Homo sapiens: one gene and its partners. The protein of the gene in region 7 purifies or fractionates together with the protein of the main gene of each other region. This does not show direct contact. Each region holds a gene or a part of one and is shown on either strand. Other genes may lie near its edges.

Region 1 (3,500 bases), on a different chromosome or scaffold from region 7:
ACCAAGAATGGTGTGCAGCCGCAGCAGCAGGGACAGGCAGGTGACCCCCACAGAGCTTCACATGGCGAAGAGGATAAGGAAGGCGACCATCAAACAGAAGAGCCCCATGGCCTCAGACAGGGCAAAGCCCAGAATCGCATAGGAGAAGAGCTGCTGCTTGAGAGATGGGTTCCTGGAATAACCAATGATCAAGCTGCCAAACGCTATTCCAATGCTAGCCCCTGAACCAACCACACCAACTGTGTCTGCCTCAGCACCAATAAACTTGGCTGCGGTGTCAATGTCCCAGGAGACAACCTGGTCTAGAACTCCTGTCTGGCCACACCTAAAGTGGGGAGCTGCTGTAGGAAGGCTGTTTAGATGAATGCTCTGGGCTATTCAAGAAGGAGGCAGACACAGGCCGGATTAGACCCCTAGTACAACAGCGGATCAGAGCTGGAGAAATAAGTAATGCCCCGGTGGGCTGCATTTTCTCAGTCTCCCAACTTTAGCCCTTGGTCTCTCCCTGCTCTTCTTAAAGGGAGCCCATGGAAGGGTCTGATCGTTCAGGTCTTTTATGTCCAAGCACTGCCCAGGCCTTTTCTTCTCTTTGCTCCTATTAACACCTGGCCTCCTGTCTCTGCTCCAGAGATGACTGATTTCCTGAAGGAAAATTAATTCACGCTAAGTTGTAAAAGACTGACAGTAATGTTGTATAACCTATTGACATATACCTCCCATGGGATATTTGCCTGTTAACTAAATCTCTTTGGGGAGAAATTTCAAACTTCATATCAAGCCTGCAAGGATAATACTCCAGTAAACTTGCATCTGGTATCTTCAAATACTAAGCTGAACCTTCCCCAATACCTCTCTCCAGCAGAGCTAAACGTTATTTATTTTACTTTTGTATATACCTCTATTTTAACACTTGCCACAGTGTTAGAAATATTATCTAGTGATTGTCTTTCCACTTCCCACCCCAACTAGAATACAGTCAAGGCAGAAACTAAGTCTCATTTTCTACCCCAGCTTGTAGTTTCTCACTGAATATTTGGCTGATAAATAATGGAAGACTTCAACTCTATGTGTAACCAAAAACAGAATTATAGGAAAACATACTACTTTGGAGGTTAACAGATAATTCTTCCCTTTATTTCTCCTAAAGAGGATATTGTCTTAAAATATATTCCTCCTAAAGAAATTTGTCTAAAAATCTCCAACAGGTTAGACTGCTCATAGTTTCTGAATGTGCACATAGTTGTGGCCTCCAAAAACTGTCATCAATTTCACTTATCGGCACTGACTACAGGTACTTTATTTTCTGAAACACATGTTGAGACGACATATCTTCTGAAAAGAGGACCAAATAAAGACTATCTACCCCAGAAAATATAATACAACATATATACTAATATAGATATATATGGATAGATATCTTTATCAGAATAAGTACTATACTAAACTTTTAATGATATAACTTCACCAATTTAGTCTAACCCTTACCGGAGACACCACGGGGCATAAGAAAAGGTTTAGTAATGTCACTCAAAAAGTTCTAGGGTGGACAAAGCAATTCAAAGAAAACAAAGGAGAAGTAATAGCATCTGCATTCAAAAGAAGGGTGTAGCCTCATGCAGCTGTGAATAGCATTTTATTGCTTTATCAAGTGAAACACTGAGAGATCAATGACATTTCAAACTTTTATTAATTCTGTTCATAAAGGCTGAGTTTCCAGGATCTTATATAACCCAGCTTTATGATTTAATAGCAAGAATAAAGGAATAGCACACATTCTTCCTCCCTTCTCAAAAAACACACGTTAATACTTTCTTAATGAAAAAAGTACGACCCTTAGTGTGGTTGACACAAAAGTCCACATTCTACTCATTGACTATTGCAACATTTTCATGGTGTTCCTTCCAGGCTGGCTCTGGGGTCTTGAAGAGAGGCACCATTGGCAACCTGTTTCAGATTTCACTTAAACAGAGTTAGGAACCCTTTGCCAGCCCTTGCTATGGAGGAGAGCCAATCACTAATCAAAGGAGCCAGAAGGGTCACTCTATGACAGCAAAGGCTGTGTGGATGCCGTCAGGGCCAGTGGGGCCAACACCCCTCCCTAACTCACAGTAGAGGCTGGGTAAAGTCACGTTCCACTTCCACTCCAGATAAAAGACAATACTGAGAAGGTCAAAAAGCCATGCTTAAAACTCAAGGACCTGTGTGTGCAAAACACAAGAGTGTGAAGAGCATAAGCTATGTCTCTAGAATCTCAGACAGACCTCTTGTGTGCAGGGTCAATCCTGTCTCTGCAGTCAGCTTTGAGAAGACCACTGCAGTTGGGAAGCTAAACTCAGGAAGTTAGGAGGACCTCCTACCCATCCCTCAGCTCCCATGGATATTTTGAGTTGGTAAGGAGCAGTAACAGTCATCATTGTCTTCTCCCAGTGAAAATGCCCAATGGGTCTTGCATAGGAAACCATGGTAGTCCCAAAGGCCAGTCAGGTTTTGTCTGCTATTGATTGTTTAAGCAAACTGACCCTTAGGGACTGATCATTCATTCAGCAAATTTGCTGAGCACCTACTGATGTGTTAGGGACTTGGCCAGAAATTGTAGACACTGAGGTGAATAAGGCATTGTCCCTACCTTAAAAATCCCATGCGCTAGTAGGGGATCTATGTAAGTAAACAGATTTCACTGTGGAAAAGCAAATTCTGGCAGTGGACAGGGGAGAGTATGAATAAAAATTCCATGGGAACAAAGAAAGAAAGAGTAATGGAAGCCATCCGGCTAACCCAGGCATAGATTGTATCTTGCAGGGCTTTTCCTCATGGATGCTAGCATTAAGAAGGTGCTACTATATTTGGCAAAAACAAGATATTGATGCTAAGTACTCTAACTACTGGGAGAAGCATGAAAACTAGAACTGACGCGTAGGAGCTACAGGTAACTAAGCTACCTTCAAGTATTGTACTAACTGAAGTGCTGCTTCCAGTCTAACACAAGTCAGATCCCACCCACGGAGACCACATCACATCATCATATAGATGTCTGGGTTTTCCAATAAAATGGGTCAAATTTCCAGTCTCAGTTCCTTGATCTCATTTACAAAAGAGGTACTTTACCCATTTCTTTTTTTTTTTTTTTTTTTTTTTTGAGATGGAGTCTCACTTTGTCACCCAGGCTGGAGTGCAGTGGCACAATCTCAGCTCACTGCAACCTCTGCCTCCTGGGTTCAAGCCATTCTCCTGTCTCAGCCTCCTGAGCAGCTGGGATTACAGGCACATGCCACCATGCCCAGCTAATTTTTGTATTTTTAGTAGAGATGGGGTTTTACTATGTTGGTCAGGCTGGTCTCAAACTCCTGACCTCGTGATCTGCCTGCCTCGACTTCCCAAGGTGCTGGGATTACAGGCATGAGCCACTGTGCCCACCCTCTATTAATTATTTAACATATTTACTTCAACAGTATCAATGAGACTGGCCTGCAAAACAGGCCCTTAATTCTTCCCATAATGAC
Region 2 (3,500 bases), on a different chromosome or scaffold from region 7:
GTGTGTGTGTGTGTGTGTGTGTAACAATGCACATTTACCCATATGCAAAGAATACATCTGGAAAGTGACCAGGGAAACAAAGTGTAGCCTCCAGACTATGAGACTGAAGCCACAGGTGGGAGGGAGGACGGAGGAGAAGTTTACTTTCACTCATCCTCTTTTATACTGTTGTAGGGGGAGGGGCGGTTACTCTGTACCTACAAATTCAATACTAAAAACAAGCTCACGTTTTATTGAAAAAAAAAGAAGACCCATGCTGTTTGGCCTCCAAGGGGCCAAAATTCTCTTGCATGCCTTCTATTTCTAAAAACAAAGCTGCCACAACAAAGGGTGTTGTTGGATTGAGTTCTGCTCTGCAAGGGGATTGGCCTCTGGAGCAGAGAGCATGGCATCTGCTCACTATCCCTGCTCAACCTCTGGCTTGCCAACTCTCCTCTCAGGCATTGAGGCTGAAGTCTTGGGACTGTGTATGAACATTCTGGGTCTCTTGTATCCAAGCATCCACTAAGCCTGCATGTGTCTACCCAGGAGCAAGAGTTAGCCCTCTCCCACTCTATAAGGCAAAGACTTACATTTCCCTGTGCAAGAGAATGGGATATAAAAGTTGGGATGCCTGACCCCTGGACCTTTATAATAGAGGCTGTTACATTTCTCAGACTTGCTTGCAACTTGGAATAGTCATGTGACATAATTCTAGCCAATCAGATGTAAGCAGAAGTCACTCAATGATACTTCTCCAGGTGTAGCTGGAAGACACCATTTTTCTCCTCTTCTCTTCCCTTTATTCATGCCTGAAATGTAGACATGATGACTGGAGCTCCAGCAGCCATCTTGAGATAACGAGGAAGAGGGTCACACCCTAGGAATGGTCAAGTGAGAGCCAAAAGGAACCTGGGACCCAGATGATTGCCAACCTCTGGCTCTCTTTTATGTAAGCAATAATAATAAATCTTTAATCGATTTAAACCACTTCTGTTTTTCAGGATTCTGTTAAAGAGTAGCTGAATACAACTCCTGATTGAACAGGCTGTGCAAAAGGAGAAGGAAGAGGAAGAGGCAGAGGAAGAACTGAGTCATCCCCAAGCTTGCTAATAAGCCTCAGAGTTGCCCAGTTTTATAGCTGACAATGGGTCACCCAGTAAGGTGGCACAGCAAGGATTAGATTCAGAATCCCTGGTATGCTCTCTGGGTTCAGCCTGATGGGTAAAAACTATAATACAAAACTATTATTCATAGGACCTTATCATTCCAACAGGCCCTATAGGGAAGGATGGACATTGGACTCTACTTCTCTACCCTGTTCTCCCACTGCACACATGAAGACACAAAAGTATACACACATGCAGATGCATGTGGAGCACACATGCTCACATCTTCACATATGTACTCCTGCTTTTAATCTGCTAAGAGGTCCTGACCCCACCTCTGCCCAAGACCTTTCTCCATCACCTCCACAAGACCAGGTCTTACCATGAGTTGTCTGGCAAAGGCACTAAATAAGAGGCAAAATAAGTATCAGGAGGGGCAGTGAAGTGTTTGCTGAGTCCCTGTAGGGACTGGAGCACTTATGGTATGCTTCATATTTTGGCACTGAGTTATACATTGACTGTTTTTCATATTCCTGGACACATATCAGTCTTATCACCTATACAGCCAATAGTCACCCCAAGGGGGGATTGGGTTTTCTAAAGCAGTGGTTCCCAAATGTCCACCCATGTACCACTTGCATCAGAATCATTTGGAACATTTGCCAAATTTTTATTCTCAGGCCCCACTTCAGGGCAATGGAATCAGACTTTCTACTGGCAAGACCATGGTATCTGTATTTTTTCCTAAGATCACCAAATGATTCCTGTAGTAGAGCTTTTTAGGGCTTGCGTATTCTAATTTTTCTTTCCTCCTAACCAAAGAAGACCACAGTGATTCTGCTTTTGCAAGTTAGATGGGCCATAGTGTTCTGGCAAATTGGCTGTGAGTGGAAATGCCACGTGTCACTTCTGGGTGGGGGCATTTAATTATTATTGCAAGACCCTCTCTTCCTCTGCTGCAGGAGGAGCCTCCTGCTCAGACAGTGAAGAGAACCCATAGCTTCCTCCTTGTCCCAGGACTTCTTCCCCTGCACTGACTCCACATCAAGAGTAGGACAGGGTTGACCCATGAAGGTGCCCTAGGAAGATACTTCACACAAAACAAAAACTATAGTAACTATTTGATAAAAATTTGTTGAGGCTGGGTGTGGTGGCTCATGCCTAATCCCAGCATTTTGGGAGGCCAAGGTGGGAGGATCACTTGAGGCTAGGAGTTTAAGACTAGCCTGGGCAATACAGTGAGATCCTATACTTTTTTAACTAATAGGAAAAAAAGCTTGAAAGTAAAAAAAGAAGTGGGAAGGGATAGAAATAAGAGAAAGTAGTTTGTTTTAGTGTCTACACAGCAAACCACCCATTGAGAACATATTATGCATTTGTAATAGTAGAACAGAAACTCCAGCTCCTTTGAGTTCTATAAAATGCAAATTTGCCCAAGAAACAAAGTAAGGAAGTAACTTCAAGGGAGCCATCCCCATGAAGCAACCTCCAATTTAAATGGAGTATATTTGTTAGAATGTTGCATTGGTGAGCCATCTGTTGTTTATCACGTAGCCATGGCGAGGGGCTGAGCAATCACTATTCCTCAAGAACATTTTCAATCTGCATTCTAACATCTTGACTCAAGCTAAGGAGGTGTCTACTTCCTGCTGCAAAAGAATCCAGTGGGGCCAGGAAGGTTAACATTAACAACTGCCTTAAAGACAAGATGGGGACTTGGAACATTACATTGCCAGTGCCTGGGGCCAATCCTGTGGATGGAGATATCTTCCAAAAGCAGAGGAGATTAATCATTATCAGAACAAACCTGCCCTTGGGAATCCCCTACACAGTACAGAGTTGGACTTCCAGGTTAGATTCTCAGGAGTTCGTAGCTTGCAGGGATATAAACCACCCAGCAATCCCATGACCTCTGCATCTTTTAGAGGGATGTTTTCTGATAGCTTCCTTGGAGCAATTGCTGATCATCTACTATGTCTGGGACATAAAACTAGAAACTGGGGCCAAGATGTATTAATCTCAGTCCCTGCATGCAAGAGTTTTACCATCTAGTTGGGAAGCAAAACATGCATTTGACAGTAAACACAGTTTTACAATGTTAACTGCCAACTCTACTGTCCAGAGCCCACATGTCTGTGTAGAGGGCAGGGAAATATAAGATGAAGATAAACTGCAAAATAATGTTAGCAGAGAGTGTGGTCAGATCCAACATGTGAGATCATAAGAGTCACAATAAGGACAAGAAATATTGTTTGAGCTTGAGAAGGAACGTTCTTCACCAAGGAGAAAAAAAGATGAGATTGAGACAAATGTCACTTGGAAAAAGGAAGGGTGGAGACGGAGATTGCACATTCAGTTTGGTGAAGCTGCACCCTCCCTATTAGATTAATAATTTTTAATACCATCTGGATG
Region 3 (3,500 bases), on a different chromosome or scaffold from region 7:
GCGATTGGAATCTGGTGACAAGTGGTTCTCCCTGGAATTCTTCCCTCCTCGAACTGCTGAGGGAGCTGTCAATCTCATCTCAAGGTAAACTCATGCAAGGTTAAGGTGGGAGGCGGGAGTGGTGGTGCCTGGGGAGCAAACTGTCAGCCCTGAGGCTGGGCTGCCCTTTAACCCGGCAGAAAAAAGCAGCCGGAGGGGGCAGGAAGGAGAAGGCAGAGTGGGTCATCTGATCTGCAACTTCTCTGTTGCCTGTAAAAGTCCCTCCACAGTGTCAAGGTATTTTAGACACACTCTTCAATGGGTTAAAAATGTTGATTCTCACACTGTATTCTTTGAGGGAACTTGGGGGCTGGATCACGAGTGCAGTTTAGGAAGTCACAAAGCAGTGAGATTGTTTTCAGCAAGTTAGAAATTTGGATTATGCTTCTTGAACTCTAGAAATGCCAACTGAATTACATTAGCACTTCATGAATTGCAGTTTTTTTTTTAAGTTTATGCCTTTTACTGTATGCACGTCTCACGTGTCACTCCCAAGTTTTTGAAGTTTAAATGCACAAGGATGTTTAAATACACCGTTGATAGCTTGTAACACAAGTACTCGTGCACATCCAGGCTTTTTTTTGAGTCTCGTTTCGGAACTTGGCCTTGGTCTGCATAACTGTAAGCTGCTGCACAGGGCTTGGGGGGTGGCATGAAAGAAAGTGAGTCTGCTGACCCTCTTTCTAACTGTTCCTACAGCGAGGCTGTGCTTGCCACAGTTAGGATTCCCCTAACTCTCAATCATGATGTCTTAACTCACCTGAGATAATAAACAGGCAAGCGCTGTGAAAAGTCTGAAGTGCTGCTCTCACACAAAATGATAGCGCTGTTGTTGTGTCTTACCTCTGTAATAGTGATTATAACGGCACCTCACATATACTGAGTATTCGGTTTGTACACCAGGCACTGTTCTAAGTTCTGTGGAACCAGCTGCCGTCATATTCTCCTAGTGTTATGGTTTTTTGTTGTTGTTGTTGCTTTTTTTTTTTTTTTTTTTTTTTTGAGACAGAGTCTCATTCTGTGGCCCAGGCTGGAGTGCAGTGGTGTGATCTTGGCTCATTGCAACCTCTGCCTCCTGGCTCAAGCAATTCTCCTGCCTCAGCCTCTCAAGTAGCTGGGATTACAGGTGCCCACCACCACACCCAGCTAATTTTTGTATTTTTAGTAGAGATGAGGTTTCACTATGTTGGCCAGGCGGTCTGGAACTCCTGACCTCAAGTGATCCACTCACTTCAGCCTCCTGAAGTGCTGGGATTACAGGCGTGAGCCACCACGCCCAGCATCCTAGTGTTATTATGAAGTGGGTACTACTATCTGCCGTGTCTTATAAATAAGGAAACAGAACTCACAGAGATTAAGTAATGTACCCAAGATCACACAGCTATAAGTAGCAAAGCCAGGATATGAACGCTGATTGGTCTGTCTCCAACCTTCATTGATGCTTCTCTAACTCCCGGGCCCCATGGGAAGGCAGTGACGGATGGTATTTCTCCTGGAACCTCTCTTCAGAAACAAACCCCCTACAGGTTTGACCGGATGGCAGCAGGTGGCCCCCTCTACATAGACGTGACCTGGCACCCAGCAGGTGACCCTGGCTCAGACAAGGAGACCTCCTCCATGATGATCGCCAGCACCGCCGTGAACTACTGTGGCCTGGAGACCATCCTGCACATGACCTGCTGCCGTCAGCGCCTGGAGGAGATCACGGGCCATCTGCACAAAGCTAAGCAGCTGGGCCTGAAGAACATCATGGCGCTGCGGGGAGGTGTGGAGCCAGCACTCCCCTACACTCTGGGTTCTGGCTTTCCCGGAGGCCACTTGGTAGCCTGAACTTGGTTCCTGAAATGGTCCTTTACTTCTTCCTGGGCCCCACGCTGAGGATCCGCAGGATCCCATCCCCGCCAGTAGTGTCAGTAGGCATTGTGGGTAGTGAGTCATCCTGGGCACCACACACAGGCAGCCACCTCTTCCACCTCTTGACCTCGACATAGGAGTTCCGTCAGGAATGCAGTCGCGGCCTGATAACCCTCTGCCTTGCCTACACCACTGCATCGATTGCTGGCTGCACCCAGCACTTGGCCCAATCACAGAGTAACAGAGTATCCAGGAGTGAGAATAGCCGGTCAGGCCTCTGGTGCCCGCTGTTGTCAGGCCACCTAAGAGTGGGAAGAGGGAGCCTGATGGGTGGGATCCTATGGCCTCGTGCTCCCTACCACAAGACCCCTTCACTTGAGATGAGTAGAAAATTCTCCCAGGAGGCAGGAGCCCCAAGGCCGTGGGATGGGAGAGGGTGGCAGGCATGCCCAGGTAGAAGTAGGGAAGGGCTCTCCAATCCTCCAGGCACGGTGAGAAGCAGCGGTGGTCTCCTATTCTCCACCGCCAGCACAGGGTCAGCATGCAGTGAATATTGAACTGGTGGGCTGCTTTTTTCCCTCCTGCTGTCTTACCAAGTGCTAGAAAGAGACGAACCAAACCTAAATAATATGAAGTTTCTGCCTTCCAGGGACTCGCAGTCCTGGGTGTCGGGGCTAGGTAGAGGGAACAGAAAGGGTCTCTGGAGGTTGGGTGAGACCCAGTGACTATGACCTCCACCAACCCTGCAGACCCAATAGGTGACCAGTGGGAAGAGGAGGAGGGAGGCTTCAACTACGCAGTGGACCTGGTGAAGCACATCCGAAGTGAGTTTGGTGACTACTTTGACATCTGTGTGGCAGGTGAGTGGCTGGATCATCCTGGTGGCGGGGATGGAGCTAGGGAGGCTGAGATGCCCAGAGAGCCTGTCGGTGTTCGGTTCAGGACACAGTGATCAGGGGCACTCATGGGTCCATGCTGGATGAAGGACATGCAGAGGTGAACTGCACCATGTCCTTGCTCCTTTTGTATCACCCACTCCCCTCCTGGGCCTGCCACCATCGACCCCTAGCTTTTTGTTCCTCTGCCTGGCTGTGCCCTTAGCCTGCTTGGCCTTATTCTTTTCTTTAAAACGAAAGAGGGGTCTGGGCGCGGTGGCTCACACCTGTAACCCCAACACTTTGGGAGGCCGAGGCAGGCAGATCACCTGAGGTCAGGAGTTTGAGACCTGCCTGGCCAACATAGCGAAACCCCGTCTCTACTAAAAATACAAAAATTAGCCAGGTGTGGTGGTGCACGGCTGTAGTCCCAGCTACTCAGGAGGCTGAGCCAGGAGAATCTCTTGGACCCAAGAGGCGGAGGTTGCAGTGAGCCGAGATGGTGCCGCTGCAGTCCAGCCTCAGTGGCAGAGCAAGACTCCATCTCAAAAAAAAAAAAAAAACAACACCCCACAAAAGAGGGATATTTACTAACAGGATTCCAGAGGGCAGGGAACCCAAGATCAGGAGATGGCCTCAGACCTCACAAGGCACTGGAAGAGGTCAAAAAGCAAGGCCCTCCCTCATTCCCTCTGGGGCCACAGGGTCCCCCATCTCCGCTTCCCACTGCAC
Region 4 (3,500 bases), on a different chromosome or scaffold from region 7:
CCCGATCACTGTCTCCATGTTGCTGCCGTTCAGGTCTGCTCGCCTTGGGGAGAGCCCAGTGTTGGATGAGCAACCAGACTGACCCAGAATAGAGTAGAACTTTAACCCATGTTCCCATAACTGGACCCCACTGAACTGTAAGCTCCACAGGGATAGAGACCAGGTATCTATGAGTACATTCCTCAGCACCCAGCATGATAGATGTTCAATAAAATAATTGCAGAATGAAGGAACCAGTTCTTAGGAGGACACAGTATTTCCTGCTAACTGGACATAGTGGCGGTTGCCAGGGGATGTCTTGCTAGAAGACAAGTTTATCATTCCCCACATACCTTTGGGAAGAGACAAGGATTGCTAGGTGGTGATGATAAGAAACGCAGATTTGTCAAAACCAACCTGTGCATTTTTTAAAAGTTAAAAACAATTTTAAATACAAGTAGATATGAGGTTTCATTATGTTGCCTAGGCTGGTCTTGAACTCCTGGGCTCAAGCAATCTTCCCGCCTTGGCCTCCCAAAGTGCTGGGATTATAGGCGCGAGCTACCACGCCAGACCCTAATTGTGCACTTTTGCAAAGGCCCTATGGGCAGGAGGGAACTCTACCTCAGAATGGGGAGCATGTCACTGTCACCTAGGGGACTTCCCTAAACTGTATATGCCTACCTGTCCCCAGTTTGAGATTCTAATACATCCCTTGGGGAGAGCAAAGGGGAATGTTCCCTGTTCCTCCATGTGAGAATATCTGCCATGGTAAACCACTCTTACTGGTGGCAGGACATCATATTCCTAAGCTGTGTTAGGGCCACAAATTTAAAGACTAAAAATAAAACAACGAAAAAATAAAAAACAACAGCTTTGTAAACCACCATAAGACTTGGCATTTGATTGGGGCTCCTTTACTGCAATACAGATACTGGTTATATGGCCTACTCATCAGTAAGTCCTAGGGGATTCTTGGAGCTCCCTCAGGGCACAATGGTAGATGTGAAAGTCTCCAGGTCCCCTGACTTTACCTGTTTTTTTTGTTGTTGTTGTTTGTTTTACATACTAGGCTTCCATATAATCTCTAAACAAATGAAAGTTTGAAACTCTGCTGTAAGTGACAACACTACAAAGTGAACAAGTCAGGATTAAAACTCACTATCCAAAGTGCCAAATCACTCATCCATTTAGTGGTCAGAACACAACCTCACCCATGGGCGACCAGAAGCAAATCTGTGTCTTCTGGAGGTTTCAGTGTTGCTCATACCTGATAACATCCAGGAACACATCTGTGTAATAGACCTTTCCATCCACGCTGTCATAGTCCAGGGAGATGACATTGTTGAGCTCAGGAACAGGGACATGCACATCGGTGTGGTCACTGGTGTCCAGTGAGATACGCCGGATGGAGCCACGGCTGGAGAAGAGCAGGTAGGTCTCAGGAGAGGGATCACAGGTCTTCCCATCTCCCTTCAGCTGGATGCCAGTGGGGCAGGCACAGGAGAAGCCAGAAGGCCGAGGCAAGCAGAGGTGGGAGCAGCCGCCATTTCTCGAGCCGCACTTGTTAAAACCTGGTGATGAGAAGCACAAGTATTCACACCTAGCCTGGAACATCATCTGAATCTTACAAAGGTCCCAGTTGTTTGTGGCTGGCTCTTTGCTGTTCTAAGTGACAGGATTCAGTGCCTGGCAGGGTGAGGTAGAAGGAGGGTCTGCAGGAGGATCTCCAGGAGTCCTTTGAAGGTGACAGCTGTAGTACCAGCCATACCCAGAGAGAACACAGCCCAATCTGGAAGGGAGCTTAAACAGGTCACCGTCTTTCTGGCTGTAAAGGAGCTCTGTGCTCTGGATATATCTCTGATGTTGAGATGGCCCCAGAAAGCCAGAGGCTCTGACTCACAGCCCCAGCCCTCTGACTCTCACCTAGTGGCTGTGCCCGGTCCACAGCCTGCATGTCCATGAGGCCTGGCAGGTTGGACCTCACGAGGATGACATTGCTGCCAGTACCCTTGTCAGCACGGTGGATGCTCCGAGTCTGCCAGTCAGTCCAGTAGATATAGGAGTCGAGCAGGGTGAGGCCATATGGGTGCTGCACCGGTGACACCAATGTATGCCGATTGGCACCATTCAGGTCAGCAGCCTCAATTCGCTGCAGAGGAAGGAGAGGGTGGGGGGTGGTGATCAGCAGATTGGGAACTCTCCATGGAGATCCTAGGCAGGCCTTTCCCATCTTCCCAGGCTCCTGGGAAGCAGCAGGGACACGGCTCTCACCTCGGTGTGGGCATCGGCCCATAGCAGTTGGGAGCTGGCCTTGTCCACAGTCAGTCCATTGGGCCATCCTAGGTTGTTGTTGATGAGCACCGCGCGGTCTGAGCCATCCATTCCGGACCGCTCTAACTTGGCATTCTCCCCCCAGTCTGTCCAGTACATAAACCTGAGTGAGGAAGAATATTAGCTATATTAGCTAGTTATTCCAGCAGCTACCACATACCATGAATACTTAACAGTATGTCAGATACACTTGAGTACTTACAGTATGTCAGGCAAAATTTTTGCTTGACAAAGTACTTTGCAAAATACTTCATGTGCATTATCTCAACCTTCATAAGGGCCACAAGGTATGTATTTTCACTACCACCTCCATTTAATAGGTAAGGAAGCTGAGAATTAGAGAGGTTAAATACCGGACCCAAGTGATATAGCTAATACATGATGAAAACATTTCAATCCTGGTATTCTGATTCAAGGCTCATGCTTTTAACTTCTACACTGTACTGTCACCCTGCGAGAAGTCACAAGAGAGTGGAAGAGCCCCAGGGAGGTCACCTTGTTTCTGTGATGCAAGCTTCCTCTCCACTACCCACCTTTACCCCGTCATAACCCCAGCTGAGCTGGCCCCCCACACTACCCAGTGCGATACAGCCAGCTCTCACCCCATCTCATGGTACAGTACGATGGCCCGGGGACTGTCAAGGTTCTGCCACACCAACACTTTCCGCATGGACCCGTCCAGGTTGCCCACTTCAATCCGGTTTGTTCCCGTGTCTGTCCAGTATACTTTCCGGCCAATGGCATCAACCGCGAGCCCATCTGTGGTCTGTAGCCCTGTGGGAAGTCAAAAGAGCACACTGGCTCCTATTTTAAAACAGATGGGCTATTTCCCCAGCCCTGTTGCCAGACAGGTGGTCCCTGGGCTAGGAGGAAGGCCCACCTGTGGTGATGATGTCCTCATGCTGTGAGCCATCCAGATTGGCACGACTGATCCTGTGCAGTGTGCTGTCAGACCAGTACACCTTTCCTGGAGAGGGAAAGCTTGGCTCAACCTAGACCCTCACCGCCTACAATGGGACACACACAGCTGATTCATGTCTTGAAACACCAGAGCATGTCAGAGAGCTCTGGAGCCTCTAGCAGAGGAAATCAAGGAAAACGCAGAAATATCATAGCAGGATAGCTCTTGGCAGAGACGGAGAGAAGAGGGCCCCAAACCATGCTCTCACAACCAAAGAGAGAGTGCT
Region 5 (3,500 bases), on a different chromosome or scaffold from region 7:
ACTTTCTTTGGTTTATGCATTCTTTTGTATCTACATACTTTGCATAATTCTAATTTTAATGGCTGTATATTAACACATCTTAATAATATGTACTCTGTTTAATCATTCCTCTAATACTGAGCAATTTGGATTTAAATTTTTACCCTTAAAAATAAGTCTGAACTCATAGTTACTGTAAAAAACAATTTAATTGATTTTATGTGCTCCTAAGTGAGTAGTAAATGTTTAAATGTATCTATGGGATATATGAGTTTCAGAGACATTTATGTGATTTGTCTGAATTTATTCAGAATAGGGAATTGTGACATTCTTAATTTATGAGTTTGTTAAGGGTTCTGTTTATTTTAAACTGAATAAATATTGGTTCAACGTTTTACCTACTCAAAATGATGGGTAAACTGGTATTTATCCACTACTATTTGTAAATTAAATATTAATGAAACATTTTGACTCATTTCATTTCAGTTCAAAATTTTATCAAATATCCTCTGTGTACATGAAATATTTTTTTCATTTAATGTTAATATGGCAAGAACTGTGGAAACAGAAGTAGAATGTTTTATTAAGTGACTTGCCACATTTTTTGGTAATTGTTTTGCTTTTGGACTTAAAGTCCAAAAAACAAGCTTACGTTTCACTTACCATTTGTTGATCTGACATCCCACATGTCAGCTATTCCTGGTGGCTCATCAACAACACAGAAAGTAAACGGAGACCCATAAGAATGTTCATTAACAGAGATAAGGACTGATGGAGAGTCAATGCAGATGGTTCTTCTTTCAGGAAAAATGTTTGGACAATAATCATTGATATCAGGAACCTCAATACATATGGTTCCTGTAGCTGTTTTTCCAGAGCCATCTGAAAGAGTAAGGGTCATTGGTGTTGAGGTAAATGGTGTTAGGGAGAAAACTCTTTCTCATATCCCCTGATGATGCCATGGAACTTGTAGGAAACATATACGTGACTTGGGAGGCTTGACAGGTTCCTGCCCGCTTCAGTGACCCAAAGTCACTCTTCCCTTTGTGTGCTACCTTCCAGCCACACTGCTTCTTTTGAGTTCTTTAAACAAGTTTCTTTTTTACTCTGGACTCTGGCACATTCTTTTCACCCTTCCTAAAATGTTTTCCACCCTCATTTCATTTTGCTAATTCTGACACATCCTAAGGCGCAAAATCAAATGTTCTTCCTCCGAGAAGGTTTACTGGTTTCTAATCTCACCCTGTTCCCATAAATTAGACCCCCAGGTCAGTTATGAACCTCCATTCAGGATGCTCACTGAGTCCTGTGTTTGTAGAAATAACCACAGCTGAAATAAATACTTGTTTGTGTTTTTCTTGTGTGCTCACTGTTTATTTTAATTGCATCTGTTACATGCTATTTCTTTCTGAAATGGCATTTCTGAAAACAAATATAAGTCTATTAGATTTTTCCCTAATCCACTTGAAACAAGTTTTTGGATAGTATAATTAATCAGAAAGGGCCAAAGACTAAAGATTAGGAGTCCAGGAGCTTTTTAGTCCACTTTTCTACTCTATGTTCTGTTACAGCGAATACGGAATTTTTTTTGCTTCTTTTTAACTTGAAAAGAATCTTAGCTTTCTCGCTTTTAAACTAGAACGTTGTCGTCTCTGGGGTACCTTACTAGGTCCTTTTCTGAGAAAGCAATAAATTCCTTTTACAGATGTTTTCTGTGTGCCTAAGTAGTAGTCATTGAGGTAACTGAATGAGAATAAACTGAGAGCCTACCTATAGTCTATATGATTTTGTATAATATGTTTATATACCCTATTCAGCATTGGACTTGTTTTTACTAGATGAAGGATGTCGATTTCACTTAGCTTCTCATTCGAGAGGCATCAGATTATTCCACAGATTGTTTTATTTGTCATTCTTTGATCTTTGGTAGCTCTTCTATTACCTTGTGATTGGCAACCAAAGCTCAAGCTATTGCTTATAGTGTTTGCTTCCCAGTAAAGTTTGCTCTGCATAGAGGTCTGTCTCTTCACCTGATGATGGTGTGTGCTGAAGCAAACTTATTCCAACCATTCAGATAGCTCTGTGCCAGTGCAGACACTCTGCTTAGGTGAATAAACAATCAGCTTTGTTTCTGGGTTTCTCTTGGTACATTTTGACAGCACTTTCTCTCTCTTTATTTGCTTGGAATGACTAATTATTTATTCTAGCATTTGAAGATTTTTCACATATGACCAATATGCAAACATAGGGTGCAATCAACATGGTTAGAATCCATTTTCAAATTAGAGCTTCCAGAATACTGATAATGAATAAGACAATGTTATTTATAAAACTGACCCAGGCGTTAAAATTTACCCGCCACAGGATGAAGCCCAGGATGTACAGATGATAGTTGGTTTGGTTTTATCATGGTTTCTTTTTGAATTTTATGCTGCTTCTTTATCTTTATTTTTGTTTTGATACTGGAAAGGTCAGCTATAAACTCAATGCAAACCTACAGTATCTGTCTTACATTAGGCATGTATCTTGGACGCCTGTCTTTCCCCTTCCTTCGTGGTTCCTGACCTTTGTCTCTTGTTTGGTTCTACAGCAGCTGGTTTCCTAGGCACTGCTTCATAGAATCATTAACTATTGATAAATAAACAAATCCTGTTGCTGCTCACCAAGAGGACTGCTTAACAGATTTACCCATGTGAGAGGTGGCTCGCTTACAAGTTAAGTCAGTGCATCTGTATTTATGACTTTTAATATGGATCTTATATTTGGAATAATCTGTGCTTTCTTGGTCCATAGCATCTTACTATGGAAATATGTCTAATCAAGCAACACTCACACAAGCTTCTCACTGTAGTTCAGTTTTAATGGATCTAAAATAATTGTATTCTTGGAGACATTGCTTTCCCACAAGGTGATCCCCAAATGAACTTTGTAGAGCACGTAGCCCTTACTTTAAGTAAACATTCCCAACATACCCTACAAGTGAGATTAGCCATACTCAAGAGACAAAGTCATAATCAGAAGATGAATTATATTTTAACTTTTATGCTGTAAGCCATATACAACTCAGTTTTGGAAGTAGATGAAATAAACTATGGCTTCAGTGTAAATTATGATTTTAATTGACTTCAATTCTTGATTTAAGGTGTTTAGGGCTTTCCATAAGTCTTGCATACACCATTAAAAATGTCTGAGTCACTCAAATATCAGCATTAGAATAACATAATATTTAATATAATAGTACTAGTTTTCTTAAAATACTGAAAATAAATTTTCTTACCATCTATAGCCAGGATCTCTGCTGTGTATATCCCATTGATAATATATTTTGACTTCTTATCAAATTCTCTAGAAAATTGTATCTCACCAGTTCTTGAATCAATTTTTAACCAGCTGCCTGCATCATGCCCTATGATATATCTGTTTTTAAATAAAAAAGTTCGTTATCATGCTTTTATGAAAGTTAGTACTTTTAAATCATGTAACAGCTACAATGTGGCAAACTTTAATATTGTGTTTTTATG
Region 6 (3,500 bases), on a different chromosome or scaffold from region 7:
TAGCAGCAGCATACATGGGACATAGAGAGATTGTGGAACACCTACTGGACCATGGAGCAGAAGTAAATCATGAGGATGTTGATGGCAGGACTGCACTCTCTGTAGCTGCACTTTGTGTGCCTGCAAGTAAAGGGCACGCATCAGTTGTTAGCCTTTTAATTGATCGAGGTGCTGAAGTAGATCATTGTGATAAAGATGGCATGACTCCACTGCTGGTAGCTGCCTATGAAGGACATGTTGATGTGGTTGACTTGCTTCTAGAAGGGGGAGCAGATGTAGATCACACAGATAACAATGGCCGTACACCCCTCTTAGCAGCAGCGTCTATGGGTCATGCATCAGTTGTAAATACACTTTTGTTTTGGGGTGCAGCTGTGGATAGTATTGATAGTGAAGGTAGGACAGTCCTCAGTATAGCTTCAGCACAAGGAAATGTTGAGGTGGTACGTACTCTACTGGATAGAGGGTTAGATGAAAATCACAGAGATGATGCTGGATGGACACCTTTGCACATGGCAGCTTTTGAAGGGCACAGATTGATATGTGAAGCACTTATTGAACAAGGTGCTAGAACAAATGAGATTGACAATGATGGACGAATCCCTTTCATATTAGCTTCACAAGAGGGTCATTATGATTGTGTTCAAATATTACTGGAAAACAAATCCAACATTGATCAAAGAGGTTATGATGGAAGAAATGCACTGCGGGTTGCTGCATTAGAAGGGCACAGGGACATTGTTGAATTGCTTTTTAGCCATGGTGCTGATGTTAACTGCAAAGATGCTGATGGTCGGCCTACACTTTATATCTTGGCCTTAGAAAATCAGCTTACAATGGCCGAATATTTTTTAGAAAATGGTGCAAACGTAGAAGCAAGTGATGCTGAAGGAAGGACAGCACTTCATGTGTCTTGTTGGCAAGGCCATATGGAAATGGTGCAGGTCCTGATAGCATACCATGCTGACGTCAATGCTGCAGACAATGAAAAGCGCTCTGCTTTGCAGTCTGCAGCCTGGCAGGGCCATGTAAAAGTGGTTCAGCTTCTGATTGAGCATGGTGCTGTAGTTGACCATACATGTAACCAAGGTGCAACTGCACTCTGTATTGCAGCCCAGGAAGGGCACATTGATGTTGTTCAGGTCTTATTAGAGCATGGTGCTGATCCAAACCATGCTGATCAATTTGGACGCACTGCTATGCGTGTTGCAGCCAAAAATGGACATTCTCAGATAATTAAATTATTAGAAAAATATGGTGCATCTAGTTTGAATGGCTGTTCCCCATCTCCTGTTCACACAATGGAGCAAAAACCTCTACAGTCATTGTCTTCAAAAGTGCAGTCATTAACAATTAAATCAAATAGCTCTGGTAGTACTGGTGGAGGGGATATGCAGCCTTCGTTACGTGGTTTACCTAATGGGCCTACTCATGCTTTTAGTTCTCCTTCAGAATCTCCAGATTCTACAGTTGACCGGCAGAAGTCATCACTGTCAAATAATTCCCTGAAAAGCTCAAAAAATTCATCTTTGAGAACTACTTCATCTACAGCAACGGCTCAAACAGTGCCAATTGATAGCTTTCATAACTTGTCATTTACAGAACAAATTCAGCAGCATTCATTGCCACGCAGTAGAAGTCGACAGTCAATTGTTTCCCCATCTTCCACAACACAGTCCTTAGGACAGAGTCATAATTCACCAAGTAGTGAATTTGAGTGGAGTCAAGTAAAGCCCAGTTTGAAGTCAACTAAAGCAAGTAAAGGGGGGAAATCAGAAAATTCTGCCAAGTCTGGATCAGCTGGGAAAAAAGCGAAACAAAGTAATTCTTCACAGCCAAAGGTTTTAGAATATGAAATGACTCAGTTTGATAGAAGAGGACCTATAGCCAAATCCGGGACTGCTGCACCACCTAAACAAATGCCAGCAGAATCTCAATGCAAAATTATGATACCTTCAGCTCAGCAGGAAATTGGTCGATCTCAACAGCAGTTTCTTATTCACCAACAAAGTGGGGAACAGAAGAAGAGAAATGGAATAATGACAAATCCAAATTATCATCTTCAGAGCAACCAGGTTTTTCTTGGTAGGGTTTCAGTCCCACGAACAATGCAAGATAGAGGGCATCAGGAAGTGTTGGAGGGATACCCTTCCTCAGAGACAGAATTAAGCCTTAAACAAGCTCTGAAGCTTCAGATTGAAGGTTCTGACCCTAGCTTCAACTATAAAAAGGAAACACCATTATAAAAGGTAATATTTTGTCAACATAAAGAGTAAAAAACAAAAGTAGAGTTCCCTCTACTTGGAATGCTCTTTTCCTTGATCACAAGGCCAATTCCCTCAGTTAATCTCTACTCAGATGTCATCTGGGCCAGACCTGCCTCATCACCCCTTTACATCAGAATTCTCCTGCCTCTAGCACTCCTTTCCCCCTTGCGTGCATTATGTTATCCAAAGCACTTACTATTTAAAATACTTCAGATGTTTTCTTTATTATTTTTCTCCTCTGAACTAAAAATACAACCTTTGTGAGGGTAGGGTTTTCTATCTGTTCACTACTGTATTTCATGTACTTGGAATAGTGCTTGGACCTATGGTAGTTTCCCAGTAAAAATTTGTTGAATAAGTGAATGAACTAATGAATGAATGAATGAATATACTACTTATGGATCCCAGATTAAGAATTCTTTCCTATTCAGTTATGTCCTCCTTTTAAAAGAATTTTGATGGTGTCAGAGGGAGGGGCTGTTTCAAACTCATCTTTTTGGTTTGAATGCAATAATGTCTGTAGCACATAGTAGATAGTAAATATTAATTTCATTCCTTTTCACTCAGAAAGAAGTCAAAAACTTAGTAGAAGGTAGTTTTTATGATGACAGATCTCTTGAGACTCTTCTAAGTAATGTTTTCACACATAAGGCATAGACGTGAAAAATGATAAATGGATGTTTTTGCAATATTGGTATTTAGGGCACTTTATACCTGGATAAAATAGTCATATTTGTTAAATAAATTTTTTTTTCTCCTTCCTGTAACAAAGGATACTTCATTAATAATATAGGGGATGTTAGTGGGAAAATAGGTATGTAAGTTTTATATTTTAGATACTTTTTCAGAAGCTCATTTCCTGTATTGGAGATAAATCTGAAGATTTTATTAGGGGTCTTTCCTAGCATACACTGCAGCTATATTTATCCCACTTTGCTTAATGATTTTTCTTCCTCTAACAAAGTTATATATACTCTTTCCTTTTTGCTGCTTCTGTCTTTGTAAATATATTTTAGGGATATAATAGGTGAAACACTATTATAGATAAATTCCTCATATATTCTAATAATAAACAGCCTTCAATGTGAATCTAGGGGTGACCAAATGTCATTCAAAAATAATTTGAATAAAGTACTTAATTCAGTCCCCAAATGCAATTCGTTTTTAAAATAATTAGTTCTGATGGTGCACCCTTTCAACTCTCATGATATCTGTTTTAAAGGCAAAATATAA
Region 7 (3,500 bases):
AGTTTTTTTTCCCCCCAGTGGCACCTGGAAGCCCAGTGAGACAGAACCATTCACTCTCCTGGAAAGGGGGCTGAACCCAGGGAGCCACGTGGTCTCGCTCAGCAGATCCGACTCCCATGGAGCCCAGCAAGCTAAGATCTACTGGCTTGACATTCTCGATGCCAGCACAGCAGTCTGAAGTAGACCCAGGATGATGGAGCTTGGTGGGGGGAGGGGCGTCCACCATTACTGAGGCTTCAGGAGGCACTTTTCCCCCTGACAGTGCTAAGGAGGCCAGGAAGTTCGGACTGGGTGGAACTCACCACAGCGCTGCAAAGCAACTGTGGCCAGACTGCCTCTCTAGATTCCTCCTCACTGGGTAGGGCATCTCTGAAAGAAAGGCAACAGCCCCAGTCAGGGGCTTACAGATAAAACTCCCACCTCCCTGGGACAGAGCACCTGGGGGAACGGGTGGCTGTAGGCACAGTTTCTGCGGATTTAAACATTCCTGCCTGCCAGCTCTGAAGAGAGCAGTGGATTCTGACAAGGAGGATTCTTCCAGCACAGACCTGCTAAGAGACAGACTGCCTCCTCAAGTGGGTCCCTGACTCCCGTGCCTCCCGGATGGAGAGACCTCCCAGCAGGGGTCAACAGACATCTCATACAGGAGAGCTCTGGCTGGCATCAGGCTAGTGCCCCTCTGGGACAAAGCTTCCAGAGGAGGGAGCAGGCAGCAATCTTTGTTGTTCTGCAGCCTCCGCTGGTGATACCCAGGCAAATAGGGTCTGGAGTGGACCTCCAGCAAACTGCAGCAGACCTGCAGAAGAGGGGCCTGATTGTTAGAAGAAAAACTAAGAAACAGAAAGCAATAATATCAACATCAACAAAAAGGACCCCCACACAAAAACCCCATCCAAAGGTCATTAGCCTCAAAGATCAAAGGTAGATAAATCCACAAAGATGAGGAAAACCCAGCACAAAAATGCTGAAAATTCCAAAAACCAAAATGTCTTTTCTCCTCCAAATGATCACAACTCCTCTCCAGCAAGGGCACAAAACTAGACAAAGAATGAGTTTGATGAATTGACAGAAGTAGACTTCAGAAGATGGGTAATAACAAACTCCTCTGAGCTAAAGGAGCATGTTCTAACCAAATGCAAGGAAGCTAAGAACCTTGATAAAAGGTTACAGAAATGGCTAACTAGAATAACCAATTTAGAGAAGAACATAAATGACCTGATGGAGGTGAAAAACACAGCACGAGAACTTCGTGATGCATATACAAGTATCAATAGACAAATCAATCAAGCAGAAGAAAGGATATCAGAGATTGAAGATCAACTTACTGAAATAAGGTGTGAAAACAGGATTAGAGAAAAAAGAATGAAAAACAAAATGAACAAAGCCTCCAAGAAATATGGGACTATGTGAAAAGACCAAACCTACGATTGATTGGTGCACCTGAAAGTGACGGGGAGAATGGAACCAAGTTGGAAAACACACTTCAGGATATTATCCAGGAGAACTTCCCCAACCTAGCAAGACAGGCCAACTTTCAAATTCAGAAAATACAATGAACACCACTAAGATACTCCTGGAGAAGAGCAACCCCAAGACACATAATCATCAGATTCTCCAAGGTTGAAACGAAGGAAAAAATGTTAAGCACAGCCAGAGAGAAAGGTCAGATTACCTACAAAGGGAAGCTCATCAAACTAACAGAGGATCTCTCTGCAGAAACTCTACAAGCCAGAAGAGAGTGGGGGCCAATATTCAACATTCTTAAAGAAAAGAATTTTCAACTCAGAATTTTATATCCAGTCAAACTAAGTTTCATAAATGAAAGAGAAATAAAATCCTTTCCAGACAAGCAAATACTGAGGGATTTTTGTCACCACCAGGCCTGCCTTACAAGAGCTCCTGAAGGAAGCACTAAATATAGAAAGCAAAAACCAGTACCAGCCACTGCAGAAACACACCAAAATATAAAGATCAATGACACTATGAAGAAACTGCAACAACTAATGTGCAAAATAACCAACTAGCATCATGATGACAGGATCAACTTCACACATAATAATATTAACCTTCAATGTAAATGGTCTAAATGCTCCAATTAAAAGACATAGACTGGCAAATTGGATAAAGAGTCAAGACTCATCAGTATGCTGTATTCAGGAGACCCATCACACGTGAAAAGACACACATAGGCTCAAAATAAAGGAATGGAGGAATATTTACCAAGTGAATGGAAAGCCAAAAAAAGCAGGGGTTGCAATCCTAGCCTCTGAAAAAACGGACTTTAAACCAACAAAGATCAAAAAAGACAAACAAGGGCATTACATAATGGTAAAGGTATCAATGCAACAAGAAGAGCCAACTATCCTAAATAGATATGCACCCAATACAGGAGCACCCAGATTCATACAACAAACTCTTAGACACCTACAAAGAGACTTAGACTCCCACACAATAATAGTGGGAAACTTTAACATCCCACTGTCAATATTAGACAGATCAATGAGACAGAAAATTAACAAGGATATTCACAACTTGAACTCAGCTCTGGACCAAGTGGACCTAATAGAACTCTCCAACCCAAATCAACAGAATATACATTCTTCTCAGCACCACATAGCACTTATTCTAAAACCAACCACGTGATTGGAAGTAAAACACTCCTCAGCAAATGCAAAAGAACGGAAATCATAACGAATGGTCTTTCAGATCACAGTGCAATCAAATTAGAACTCAGGTTTAAGAAACTCACTCAAAACCACACAACTACATGGAAACTGAACAACCTGCTCCTGAATGACCGCTGGGTACATAACAAAATTAAGTCAGAAATAAAGAAGTTCTTTGAAACTAATGAGATCAAAGAATCAACGTACCAGCATCTCTGGGACACAGCTAATACAGTGTTAAGTGGGAAATTTATAGCACTAAATGCCCACATCAGAAAGCAGAAAAGATCTGAAATTGACACCCTAATATCACAATTAAAAGAACTAGAGAAGCAAGAGCAAACTCATTCAAAAGCTAGCAGAAGACAGGAAATAATTAAGATCAGAGCAGAACTGAAGGAGATAGACACATGAAAAACCCTTCAAAAAAATCAATGAATCCAGGAGCTGGTTTATTGAAAACATTAATAAAATATATAGACCACTAGCCAGACTAATAAAGAAGAAAAGAGAGAAGAATCAAATAGACACAATAAAAAATAATAAAGGGGGTATCACCAATGATCCTACAGAAATACAAACTACCATCAGAGAATAGTATAAACACCTCTATGCAAATAAACTAGAAAATCTAGAAGAAATGGATAAATTCCTGGACACACACATTCTCCCAAGACTAAACTAGGAAGAAGTCAAGTCTGTGAATAGACCAATAACAAGTTCTGAAATTGAGGCAGTAATTAATAGCCTACCAACCAAAAAAAGCCCAGGACCAGACAATTCACAGCCAAATTCTACCAGAGGTACAAATAGGAGCTGGTACCATTCCTTCTG

Evidence for each region.
Region 1: the proteins of CXorf66 (region 7) and SERPINB5 purify together in Homo sapiens (affinity purification with mass spectrometry; one large-scale study listed by BioGRID and IntAct). This does not show direct contact.
Region 2: the proteins of CXorf66 (region 7) and HEPHL1 purify together in Homo sapiens (affinity purification with mass spectrometry; one large-scale study listed by BioGRID and IntAct). This does not show direct contact.
Region 3: the proteins of CXorf66 (region 7) and MTHFR purify together in Homo sapiens (affinity purification with mass spectrometry; one large-scale study listed by BioGRID and IntAct). This does not show direct contact.
Region 4: the proteins of CXorf66 (region 7) and LRP4 purify together in Homo sapiens (affinity purification with mass spectrometry; one large-scale study listed by BioGRID and IntAct). This does not show direct contact.
Region 5: the proteins of CXorf66 (region 7) and DSG4 purify together in Homo sapiens (affinity purification with mass spectrometry; one large-scale study listed by BioGRID and IntAct). This does not show direct contact.
Region 6: the proteins of CXorf66 (region 7) and ANKRD50 purify together in Homo sapiens (affinity purification with mass spectrometry; one large-scale study listed by BioGRID and IntAct). This does not show direct contact.

What each region holds. Positions count from the first base shown.
Region 1 is NC_000018.10:63,493,958-63,497,457, reverse strand, and holds part of SERPINB5 (serpin B5), read right to left. Parts: intron 517-3,500; exon of another isoform or gene 1-516. UniProt on the Homo sapiens protein: Tumor suppressor. It blocks the growth, invasion, and metastatic properties of mammary tumors.
Region 2 is NC_000011.10:94,027,854-94,031,353, reverse strand, and holds part of HEPHL1 (ferroxidase HEPHL1 precursor), read right to left. Parts: intron 1-3,500. UniProt on the Homo sapiens protein: Is a copper-binding glycoprotein with ferroxidase activity. It oxidizes Fe(2+) to Fe(3+) without releasing radical oxygen species. May be involved in the regulation of intracellular iron content.
Region 3 is NC_000001.11:11,799,465-11,802,964, reverse strand, and holds part of MTHFR (methylenetetrahydrofolate reductase (NADPH)), read left to right. Parts: coding exon 1-84; intron 85-1,548; exon of another isoform or gene 1,549-1,565; coding exon 1,566-1,804; intron 1,805-2,642; coding exon 2,643-2,753; intron 2,754-3,500. UniProt on the Homo sapiens protein: Catalyzes the conversion of 5,10-methylenetetrahydrofolate to 5-methyltetrahydrofolate, a cosubstrate for homocysteine remethylation to methionine. Represents a key regulatory connection between the folate and methionine cycles.
Region 4 is NC_000011.10:46,873,551-46,877,050, forward strand, and holds part of LRP4 (low-density lipoprotein receptor-related protein 4 precursor), read right to left. Parts: intron 3,281-3,500; coding exon 3,194-3,280; intron 3,088-3,193; coding exon 2,916-3,087; intron 2,417-2,915; coding exon 2,254-2,416; intron 2,132-2,253; coding exon 1,906-2,131; intron 1,554-1,905; coding exon 1,250-1,553; intron 867-1,249; exon of another isoform or gene 44-866; coding exon 1-43. UniProt on the Homo sapiens protein: Mediates SOST-dependent inhibition of bone formation. Functions as a specific facilitator of SOST-mediated inhibition of Wnt signaling.
Region 5 is NC_000018.10:31,400,777-31,404,276, reverse strand, and holds part of DSG4 (desmoglein-4 isoform 2 preproprotein), read right to left. Parts: intron 3,397-3,500; coding exon 3,257-3,396; intron 862-3,256; coding exon 643-861; intron 1-642.
Region 6 is NC_000004.12:124,667,733-124,671,232, reverse strand, and holds part of ANKRD50 (ankyrin repeat domain-containing protein 50), read left to right. Parts: coding exon 1-2,246; 3' UTR 2,247-2,249; intron 2,250-3,500.
Region 7 is NC_000023.11:139,959,022-139,962,521, forward strand, and holds part of CXorf66 (uncharacterized protein CXorf66 precursor), read right to left. Parts: intron 1-3,500.